Linked DNA regions of Homo sapiens. The protein of the gene in region 1 interacts with the protein of each later gene in a biochemical or structural test. Each region holds a gene or a part of one and is shown in the gene's direction. Other genes may lie near its edges. The genes, in order: KCTD17, TCHP and CUL3.

What was found.
Region 2: the proteins of KCTD17 (region 1) and TCHP form a complex in vitro, tested with the Homo sapiens proteins (one study listed by BioGRID).
Region 3: the proteins of KCTD17 (region 1) and CUL3 form a complex in vitro, tested with the Homo sapiens proteins (3 studies listed by BioGRID).

What each region holds. Positions count from the first base shown.
Region 1 is NC_000022.11:37,049,430-37,053,177, forward strand, and holds the start of KCTD17 (BTB/POZ domain-containing protein KCTD17), read left to right. Parts: upstream 1-2,312; 5' UTR 2,313-2,331; coding exon 2,332-2,520; intron 2,521-3,670; coding exon 3,671-3,748. UniProt on the Homo sapiens protein: Substrate-adapter for CUL3-RING ubiquitin ligase complexes which mediates the ubiquitination and subsequent proteasomal degradation of TCHP, a protein involved in ciliogenesis down-regulation.
Region 2 is NC_000012.12:109,898,606-109,902,353, forward strand, and holds the start of TCHP (trichoplein keratin filament-binding protein), read left to right. Parts: upstream 1-1,668; 5' UTR 1,669-1,821; intron 1,822-1,971; exon of another isoform or gene 1,972-2,454; intron 2,455-3,748. UniProt on the Homo sapiens protein: Tumor suppressor which has the ability to inhibit cell growth and be pro-apoptotic during cell stress. Inhibits cell growth in bladder and prostate cancer cells by a down-regulation of HSPB1 by inhibiting its phosphorylation.
Region 3 is NC_000002.12:224,473,764-224,477,511, reverse strand, and holds part of CUL3 (cullin-3), read left to right. Parts: intron 1-3,135; coding exon 3,136-3,267; 3' UTR 3,268-3,748. UniProt on the Homo sapiens protein: Core component of multiple cullin-RING-based BCR (BTB-CUL3-RBX1) E3 ubiquitin-protein ligase complexes which mediate the ubiquitination and subsequent proteasomal degradation of target proteins.

The sequences.
Region 1 (3,748 bases):
ACTAAGTGCCAGCAGTCCTGCCAGTCTTTCAAGGCCACTTCACATCCCATCTCATTCACCCATTCATGCATTCAACATAGTAAATGCCAGGGACTGTGCTAGGTGTTTTTTTTTGTTTTCTTTCTTTCCTCCCTCCCTTCCTTCCTTCCTTCCTTCCTCCTTCCCTCCCTCTTTCTTTCCCTCCCTCCCTCCTTCCTTTCCTCTCTCTCTCTCTTTCTTTGACGGAGTCTCACTCTGTCACCCAGGTTGGAGTGCAATGGCATGATCTTGGCTCACTGCAACCTCTACCTCCCGGGTTCAAGTGATTCTCCTGCCTTAGCTTCCTGAGTAGCTGGAACTACAGGCGTGAGCCACCATGCCCGGCTAATTTTTGTATTTTTAGTAGAGAAGGGGTTTCACCATGTTGGCCAGGCTGGTCTCGAACTCCTGACCTTGTGATCTGCCTGCCTCGGCCTCCCAAAATGCTAGGATTACAGGCGTGAGCCACCGGCTGTTTTTTGGTTTTCTATCGTTTTATTTTTTTAAAATAGAGATGGGGGCCAGGCGCAGTGGCTCGCACCTGTAATCCCAGCACTTTGGGAGGCCAAAGTAGGAGGATCACTTGAGCTCAGGAGTTCAAAACCAGCCTGGCCAACGTGGTGAAACCCTATCTCTACTAAAAATACAAAAATTAGCCAGGCGTGGTGGTGCATGCCTGTCATCCCAGCTACTCAGGAGGCTGAGGCATGAGAATTGCTTGAACCCAGAAGGCAGAGGTTGCAGTGAGCTGAGATGGTGCCACTGCACTCCAGTCTGGGTGAGAGAGTGAGACTGTATCTCAAAAAAGAAAAAGAGAGAGAGAGAGAGAGAGAGAGAGAGAGAGAGAGAGATAGGGGTCTCACTATGCTGTCCAGGCTGGTCTTGAACTTCTATGCTCAAGCGAGCCTTGGCCTCCCAAAGTGCTGGGATTACAGGTGTGAGCCACCGCACCCAGCCTACGCTAGATGTTTATAGACATTTCATAACTTAATCTTCACAGCAATGCTCTGGGGTCACAACTGTTGTAAATCCCATTTGGCAAGAGAGAAAGCCAATCTCAGAGAGGAAGTTGCTCAGGACACACCTAGTGAATTTTAAGTAGCAGGATTCCAGTACACCTTTGATCCACTCCCTGCCAAGGAGAAAAGCTTTATGCAGAAAGCAGGGCATTGGGTGGTAACAGGGAAACTTCTCCCAGCACAGGGCCAGGCTGCCCAGTGTTCGGGCCAGCTGCGTGTGACATTGGATCAGTGAGAGGAGCCCCAGACCTCTCCCCCATAGGCCAGGACCAGGACTGAAACCAGTAAGGAGAGGAAGCTAAGGAGACAGCTTCCTCGTCAGCCCTTGTCCCTCCCTGGTCCCGGACCACATGAGGAACTGCTCCCTTCCCCCATCCTGAGGTCCACAGAATGACGGTTCCCCTCCGAGTTAACTGGGGAATAACTCAGAAAGCCACCCGCAGAACCAATCCCTCCTCCTTCTTAGGGAGGACGTGGAAAAACTGAGAAAGGCCAAAAGCCAGAATGGAAACTCAGTTCTCCTGACTCGGATCCAGGGCGTGCTCTACTCTTCCTCCTTAGAAGTCTTTCCCAAGGATCCCTGACATTCCATGGTCAGGGAGCAGGAAAGAGACCTTGGTGGGTACTCACTCACCAGCAATGTGAGTAGGGCGGTCACTTCGCTTCTGTGGCTTCATCTGTAAAATGGGTATAGCCCAAAATACCAGACTCACAGGGCTGCTGAGAGCTTAAATTCATAACACATATACACAAAGTGTCTGGCATACAGGTGCTCAGCCAACCTCAAGTCCAGCTATGTCGTTCTCCAAGAACTCAGGTGAGGGAAAGAACCCACTCCCACCCACCCCGCCCCCACCCCTATACACACAAAGGGCAAATGAAAAAATATGACGAAACACATGCGGGTCAATGCTATGGGGATTCCTGGAGGGGAAAGTTTCTTCCCTTATCAGCTGTTGGACGACGGAGACGGCACAAAGGAAAAACAAGAATGCTCGGACCCATGGGATGACTGCAGATTTGGGGAAGCCCTCATTCTTTTCCCAGAGGCCGGGAGTTCGACCTTCCCCATACACAGTGATTTGGCCAGAGGGCATCTTCACCACCCCAGACTGCGGGCCTGCGGGGAAGGGCGAAGCGGGGCGGGACCGGGGGCGGGAGCAGCGCGGGGCGGGACCCTACCCGCGGCCCACGCGGAGCCAGGAGGCGCGGACTACAGCTCCCGGCCTGCCCCGCGTGCGGTCCCCGCCCGCCCCCAGCGCCCGGGAGGAGGATGCAGACGCCGCGGCCGGCGATGAGGATGGAGGCCGGGGAGGCAGCGCCGCCGGCGGGGGCGGGCGGCCGCGCCGCAGGCGGCTGGGGCAAGTGGGTGCGGCTCAACGTGGGGGGCACGGTGTTCCTGACCACCCGGCAGACGCTGTGCCGCGAGCAGAAGTCCTTCCTCAGCCGCCTGTGCCAGGGGGAAGAGCTGCAGTCGGACCGGGTGAGGCCCCCGGGGTGGGCGGCGAGCGGGCGGTGGGTCCTCCGCTCGCCCGACGCGGGGCTGTCGGGCCTGGCTCGCCCGCCAGGCTGGGGACCCGGCCGGGTTCATTTCCGAGGAACTGGAGGCGGGAAGAAGCGGCAGGAGGAGGGGAGGGGGAGGTGGGTCTGGTAGTGAGGGATGTACCCATTGCCGTGGCAACGGGACGACGCAGGCCGCGGCCATTAGAAGCTCTCCAGCCGCCCCGGATCGGGGCCTCTCCTTCTCCTTTGGGGCTGTGGACAGGGAGAGACCTGGGACCTTTCCTCCCTCCCAAAGGGGACTCCTGCTCTGGGGAAGGAGTCGACGAGGCTACTTCTCCCGCTCTTTGGGATGTGGGTGGCGGAGGGGTGCAGGGAGCTAGCTGGATGGAGGAGCCCTGGGGCGCCTTCTGAGCGGGCTGAATCTAGAAGGAGCGTTGGCCCAGCGGGCACTATTTCTGAGCACCCACCCTGACTCTGCTGCACACTGCCTGCCGCGACCTTGAGTCGGACCCTTCCCTGCACTGCGCTCAGCCTCCTTCCTCATCTGTAACACGAAGGGCTGGTCTGAAGATGACCTCTAAGGTCTCCTGTCCCCCATCCGTGACCCTCCGATGCTGTGGCCTTTGGCAAGTCGCCTCACCTCTCAATGTCTCCGATCTCTCTGTAGAGTCGCATGGAAGCCCACCCTGCCTCCCTGCCCGCCCGAGTGTCCAGTGAGATAGTGACTCCTTTGGAAACTTGTAAACATCCCCTGAAAGCCTAGGGACCTGGGGGCGACAGTGGGGCTGGCTTCAGGGGACAGCCTCTCAGAGGGACATTCTTCGAGCCCTGTGCTGGGCCAGTTGCCACTCAGACATCCTCTCACCGGATGCTCACAGCAAACCCTGATTAGGGGGAGAGGAGTGAGTTTCAAAGAGGCCAAATCATTAGCCTAAGGTCACACATTCAGGAAGAGTCAGAAGCAGGGCTTGAACTCAGGTCCATCTGACCCCAGTGCCTTTTTGCTACTTTGTGCCTGCTCCATCCAGGGAAGAGCTCTCCCTCCACTCTCCTTCCCTCCCTGTGCGTGTGCGGGGTTGGCTGGGGAGAAGCCTCACTCTTCTCTCACCGAGCATCCCTCACCTCCATAGGATGAGACCGGGGCCTACCTCATTGACCGTGACCCCACCTACTTCGGGCCCATCCTGAACTTCCTCCGGCATGGCAAG
Region 2 (3,748 bases), on another chromosome or scaffold:
GCTTGAAACCTGGGCGTTCTGACTGTAGAGACCATGTTTTGAGACAGGGTCTCACTCTGTCACTCAGGCTGGAGTGCAATGGTGTGATCACGGCTCACTGCAGCCTCCTTGTCCTGAGCTCAAGTGATCCTCCCACCTCAGCCTCCCAAGTTGCTAGGACTATAGGTGTGCACCACCACAGCCTGCTAATTTTATTTATTTATTTATGTATTCATTTATTTATTTAATTTGGAGGTGGAGTCTCACTTTGTCACCCAGGCTGGAGTGCAGCAGCGCAATCTTGGCTCACTGCAACCTCTGCCTCCCAGGTTCAAGCGATTCTCCTGCCTCAGCCTCCCGAGTAGCTGGGAGTATAAGCATCTGCCATCATGCCCGGCTAATTTTTGTATTTTTAGCAGAGACGGGGTTTCATCATGTTGGCCAGGCTGGTCTTCAACTCCTGACCTCAGGTAATCCACCCTCCTGGGCCTCCCAAAGTGCTGGGATTACAGGCGTAAGCCACTGAACCCAGCTGAGGCCATGATGCTGCATCCAGGAAAAACAGAGATGAATAAAGAATGGAGAAATGAAGGGAAGAAGAAATGAAAGAATGGGAAAATGAAAGAAAAGAGAACAAACAAGTATTTTTCTTCATTTTCTTTTTAATGGAATAGTTGGCATGTAATACTTGTAGCACACGAGTTATAAAACATACTAATAGAATGAACACTTTTGAACTCACCACCAATATAAGACTATAATAGAAAGTTATCGGCCGGGTGCAGTGGCTCACTCCTGTAATCCTAGCACTTTGGGAGCCTGAGGCAGGCGCATCACGAGGTCAGGAGATCGAGACCATCCTGACCAATATGGTGAAACCCCATCTCTACTAAAATACAAAAAATTAGCTGGGCGTGGTGGCGTGCGCCTGTAGTCTCAGCTACTCGGTAGGCTGAGGCAGGGTAATCGCTTGAACCCGTAAGGCGGAGGTTGCAGTGAATCGAGATCACGCCACTGCACTCCAGCCTGGCGACAGAGCAAGACTCTGTCTCAAAAAAATAAAAAAGTTACCAATAACTTCCATCTACTTATGCCAGCAGGCCTCTGCCCAAGTTGTACATTGAACACACCTGGGGAATTTTGGAAAACACTGATACTCTCAGATGGGATTTGGGGTTTGGTTTGGGCATCTGGATTTTTTAAAGGTATCTGGATTTTTTCTTCTTTTTTTTGAGACAGTGTCTGGCTCTGTCACCCAGGCTGGAGTGCAGTGGCACAGTCATGGCTCACGGCAGCCTCGATCTCCTGGGCTCAACTGATCCTCCCGCCTCAGTCTCCCGAGTAGCTGGGACCACAAGTCCCACCATGCCCGGTTAAGTTTAAAAAATTTTTTAGAGACAGGAGTCCCTCTGTGTTGCCCAGGCTGGTATCTGGTGATTCTCACGCGCAGCCAGGTTTGAGGACCACTGACTTACATTCTCTTCCCCCTGGTTTCCACCTTCACCTTCACGTGATGGTAACCACCATCCTGAAATACGTGTAGTGCATGGACGGATTCTTTGCCTCCATGCTTCCCTATTTCAAGGAGCAGCGACGTTTGCTATTTATCTCCCGCTGGCCACGACGGGGCACCAGAGAAAAACACAGGCTCCCTACGCGCTGAAGGAGGCTTGGCCCTTGCGACGCTCCGTCGTCGGGCTCGTTGCCGGTGCAAACAGGGAGGAAACAGCCGGCGTTGCTGTAGCGCGTCTGGGAATTACACCGGGGGACTGGCCGGCCCGCTTCGTGCCTGCGGGAAGTCGGGCCGGGGGACTCTTCGGAAACTCCGAGCCTCAGAGAAATGTGAGTCGGAGGGTTGGACTAGGCCGGATCCGGCGTTAGGGCGGGGGCCCGCAGGCGGCCCGCGCGGGCGGGAACCGGGGCGGCAGTCAGCGGGCGCGAGCTCAGGGCGCCTCCGGGGTCCTCACTGCGCTCCCCACGCGCTGTGACCCCATTTGTTGCACGTGCATGTTCAGGTCGAGAGAGGGATGCGACGTGTTCGGGGAGCAGCCCACCTTGTGGGTGGCCAATCCGGGACGGGAATCTTAAACTTTTAACTCTTGGTGCAAAGACTGATCCACTGGCGGCTTTACGGGAGCGGGAAAAAAGTATGTGAAGCTTGCCACGGTCTCGAGACCGAGGTCACACGTTAGCAGCCTGCCGGCTACATTTGGACCATAGACGCAGAGTGTTTGCCCCCAAAACTGGAGGACCTCCAGAATGAGATTCTTGGCGTGCACCAGGCCTTTTCGCTCATTCAGCCGGCGTTCCTACCCAGGCACTGCATCGACCCTACACTTGAGGACAGCTTTTGGGTCAGGGGAATTGGTGCCTGGAGTGAGACTGCTCTCTGCTTTCAAGGCTCCAGCTGTATCCCTACATTGCTCAGGCAATTCCTCTCTCTAGGTCTCAGCTTCTTCATCTGCAAGATGAAAGGTCTGTCCTCCATGGTAGCCCAACATACTTCCGAGTGTTATTATCAGTCCCCTCCCCGGGGACTGCCAGAGCCAGGGCAGGTTGGTCCCAACAGGCAGCCCCTTGCAGCAGAGAGAGCCTGGGCTCTGGTCTCAGACGGACATGAATTAGGAACCCAGCTTGTTTATCTCCTTTACTTCCTGGCTCTGTGATCCTGAGCAAATCACTTTGTAATGCTTAACGTTGTTTTTACTAACCTTGTTTTTTAATGCCTTACCTTGTTTTTACTAACCTTGCTTTTAGACTCTTTTTTTCCCCTTAATCACCTAGCCTTGTTTCCACATGAATTAGCTCTCCCTTAGTTGAGAAAGCCGGATGAACTCCATCTGGTTCCCTCATTTACAAGACATCAAGGACTCCTTACCCACCCCTTTCCTCAAGGAGTTAACTTGTGTAAGCAGAATCTCAACATATCAAAGAGTCCAATTAACTGATAAGGTACTGAAACAAGCAATGTACGAAGTTCCCAGGATTTTGCTCAAAAGATAACACCATAAAACCTTGAGTTGGTGTCGGGCAGAGCACCCATATCTAACATTTTATGAAAGATTTAGAGCCCCTGCACCTGGAACTGTTGTTTCTCTGTAACCATTTGTCTTTTAATTGTTTCTCTGTGACTCTTTGTCCTTTTAATTTTTGCATGTTTTTACTTATGTAGAATTGTTGCATCTGAGCTCCCCTCCCCTTCCTAAACCAAAGTATAAAGGAAAATCAAGCCCCTTCCTCGGGCCAAGAGAATTTATTAGCCGTCTCTTGGGCACTGGCTAAATAAAGGACTCTTAATTTCGTCTCAAACTGTGGCGTTTCTCTAACTCGCTCGGGTACAACAACTTTACCTCTTCAACGTAAGTTTCCTTACCTGCCAAATAGCGAGGTGATTGTAAGAATGAAAAAAAGTCATATGTATTGAGTGCTTGGCACATACATGTGTTCCTTACATTATTGTCTCTGTTTAAGCACAGCATAAATGCCCCCGATGTGCCTAGTCTAGCAATCTTAGGACAATCCCTGTGTCTGTCTGTTGTGTTCCTGGTGATGGCTGGCCCACAGCTGGGTGCACGCAGTCCAGAATTTTTTATGTTTTTGTTTTTTTGAGACAGAGTCTCACTGTCACCCAGGCTGAGTGCAGTGGCGCTATCATGGCTCGCTACAGCCGTGACCTCCTGGGCTCAAGCAATCCTCCTGCCTCAGCCTCCTGAGTAGCTGGGACTACAGGCGCACCACCACTCCTGGCTAATTTTTGATTTTTTATAGA
Region 3 (3,748 bases), on another chromosome or scaffold:
ATGAGGGCTAGAAGTTGCATTGGGAATTAGCTATATGAGAATGCAGTTAAAACTACAGGTGTGGATTAAATTGCTCAGTGTTAGCATGGAGAGCAAGAAAGAACTATGGGATAGACCCCTCCCTTATTTTAGGAACAGTGAGTGTAACAACAGAAACTCTTTAGAGCACTGGTTTTCACAGTGTGGTTCTTGGAACAGCTACCTTAGCATCACCTGGGAACTCATGAGAAACACAGATCCTTAGGTTCCACCAGAGCCTGAGAATTGAATCAGAAACTCTGAGGATAGGGCCCAAGAGTCTGGTTTTTTAACACGAGCTGTAGGTGATTCTGATGTTTTTTCAAATTTGAGAACACTGCTTTAGAAGGAAAAGAAAACAAAATGACAGTGTCCTATGACAAGGGAAGAGAATTACAAGGAGTGAGTGGTCAGTAATATAAAAAATCATGGAAAAACCAAGTTGAATAAACACTTTGGCAATTACGTGACAGGTTAACTTTCTCAGACATTTTCATTGGACTCGTGAAAGTGGATATCCAGTGGTAGTGCCTTGAGAAGGAAATGGAGGTGGAAACCACCAAGAGTGGCTTATTCTTTGAGGTACTGGCTCAAGGGAAAGGGCAGAGAGAGTAGTATTAGAGGATTCAGTGTAGAGTTGAAGGGTTTGGGCTTTTTCCCCCCCAAAATGGGAGGATACTGAGCATGTTTATATCCTATGAATAAAGAATGGATCCTTAAATTGAAAAAAATGAGATGAAGGGATAAATACCACATTCTAGAAAAGGAAAGGTGAGGATTGTATAGAGAGTATGATGATGGTAGTGTACTGACACAGATGTTACTGAACATGCCTCTTCCTGAGAACCTAGGGCAGGGTGCAGGGGTATGTGCTAAGCAAGATTTGGTGTAAGTATGGATAAATGTACATGTGTAGGGTGGGTATTTAAAGAACTTCAAATTGAAATGGCTTCTTTTCTCTATGTGAAACCCGATATGAGCTTGGTGCAGGACTGGGTTGAGGAGTTTAAGGGGATTGTCAGAAATTTGAAATAATACTTGTCGAAGAATGGTGCTCAGGAACTTGCTGAACTTTTGAATACTATAAATTTGTGTTAGTCTACACCAGAGATTGGCAGATGTTTTTGTAAATGGCCAATTGTAGCATGAAAGCAGCTATAGATAATACATAAATGCGTGTGACTCGCGGTGGCTCACGCCTGTAATCCCAGCACCTTGGGAGGCCAAGGTGGGCGGATCACCTGCGGTCAGGAGTTCAAGACCAGCCTGACAAACACAGCGAAACCCCGTCCTACTGAAAATACAAAAATTAGCTGGTGGTGGGTGCCTGTAATCCCAACTACTCGGGAGGCTGAGGCAGGAGAATTGCTTGAAGCTGGGAGGCGAAGGTTGCAGTGAGCCGAGATCGTGCCATTGTACTCCACCCTGGGCGACAGAGCGAGACTCCATCTCAAAAAAAAAAACTAATAAAAAATAAATAAATACATGTGACTGTGTTTCAGTAAAATTTTACAGAAACAGGTAGTGGGGTGTATTTGGCCTGTGACTGCAGTTTGCTGACTCCTGGTGTACACATACGGTGTTAACAACTACATCTTTACTCAGCAAAGACCTCTGTGGTAGGTTGATAATGATGTAGTACATATAGAATATAGGTTTAATCAAATAGTGTTTATGGGATAGGACCAAAAGAATCAGGAGTAGAAGGTCCTGTTGAGAGTGCAGCTTTCAAGAGAAGTGATCTTGAATGCAGTTTAGGCTCGGTTAAACAGGGGAGGGAGCAAGTCGATAGGAGCTGTTAATAGGCTGGAAGAAAAGAAGGGCAAAGGGTGGGAGATCTCAGGTGATGGGTTGAGAGCAAGTTTGTCGATACAGGAGTGGTAATCCTGGAAGGGCGATAAATTGTAGTTGCAGAATGAAGTGCTGAATTTTCAGATTCCAAAGAATTATCAATCCATTGTGGCTTTGGGAAATGAACTGATCAACAAGAGTAAAAGCAAAGCTGGCTCATGGATGCATTAGAGCAAAGAACATGGACTTTGAGGTCAGAAAGGTTTAGATTCATCTCTGTTGGCTCTGTTATTTACTACTTGTTGATGTCAGTTTTCTTCTCCGGCTTTATTTTCCTCGTTTGTAAAATGAGACAACTTATTTTGCAGGGTTAAGAACATTAAATAGGCCGGGCACGGTGGCTCACGCCTGTAATCCCAGCACTTTGGGAGGCCGAGGCAGGCAGATCACAAGGTCAGGAGATCGAGACCATCCTGGCTAACATGATGAAACCCCGTCTCTACTAAAAGTACAAAAAATTAGCCGGGTGTGGTGGTGGGCGCCTGTAGTCCCAGCTACTCAGGAGGCTGAGGCAGGAGAATGGTGGGAACCTGGGAGGCGGAGCTTGCAGTGAGCGGAGATTGCGCCGCTGCACTCCAGCCTGGGCAACAGAGCAAGACTCGATCTCAAAAAAGAAAAAATAAATTAAATAAACTCATACATGCAAAATGACAGATGAATAGTGCATAGACAGACTATGACTGCTGCTTTAGTTATTATTTTATTATTATATATAGCACAGTACTTAGAATCCTGATAGTACTTGGAAAAAACCAACAGAAGCACTTACTATGATTGGGCAGCATTATTCTTTATTCTAAGGCGTTACATCTGTTAACACATTTAGTGTACACACCAGTGGGCCAAGGTCCCAGAGCTAGTAGTGGTAGAGCTGAGTTTATCCAGGTACTCTGAGTCCGGAGTTTGTGTTCTTTAATACATAGGCTACCCAAGTTCTGTGAGTTTTGAGTATAACTCAGAATTCAGTAGATAACAGCATCAAAACGGTTAAACTATAGGTGGCATATGCTCACACTACTGTAATTCCAACTAATTCAATTATTCAACTGCTATCCACTTTAGCATTCACATTCTGATTTGAGGAAGTGTGTTGTAACCATAATATTACATTTTCAAACAGAACCTTTTTAAAGTTTCTGTGCTTTTATCTTTGGTAATCCAGTTAGTAAAGTTCAGTCTCTGAGTGTTAAAATGACATATCAGTTCTGTTCAAAGATACGAATTTTTATGTGTTTATATAAAAATACTATCTACTTTCTTTTTTAGGTAACTCAGCAGTTGAAGGCGCGATTCTTACCAAGTCCAGTTGTTATTAAGAAACGTATTGAAGGACTTATTGAGAGAGAATATTTGGCACGAACACCTGAGGATCGCAAAGTATACACATATGTAGCATAAAATGCGTTCAGAAATTTGATTTATTCTTGGACTGTACTCTTCGCATGGACTGGGAAGTTCTTTTAAATCATTAAATATTAAGACGACCATCTCTTCTATTAAATTACAGTACATGTTCTAGACCATTGAGATCAAGCCTTTACTCCCTTTGAGAGTTTCCAACATCAGTTGATTGAGCTTCAGGCTTTACAACGTTTATCCCTGTAGAGATCATCTTTACAGTTCCTCGGGAAAATGTGAATGTGCTGCGTTTTGTTTTCTTTACTGTATGAAAACAGGAAAATAAAAGAGAAATTTAGAAAATACAGCTCATTACAATAAAATTGTTGGATTTCATTTCCCCAGGTCTTCAGTGTTGATGTAAATGTGTTTTGTAGTGTTGCTTAGCACTTTGCGCATTGTGTAAGTTGGGTAACAAAAATGGCAAAAGAAATGCAGATTTCCCAGTTATCTTGCTCTGAAGACATTTCTTTAGCTAGTC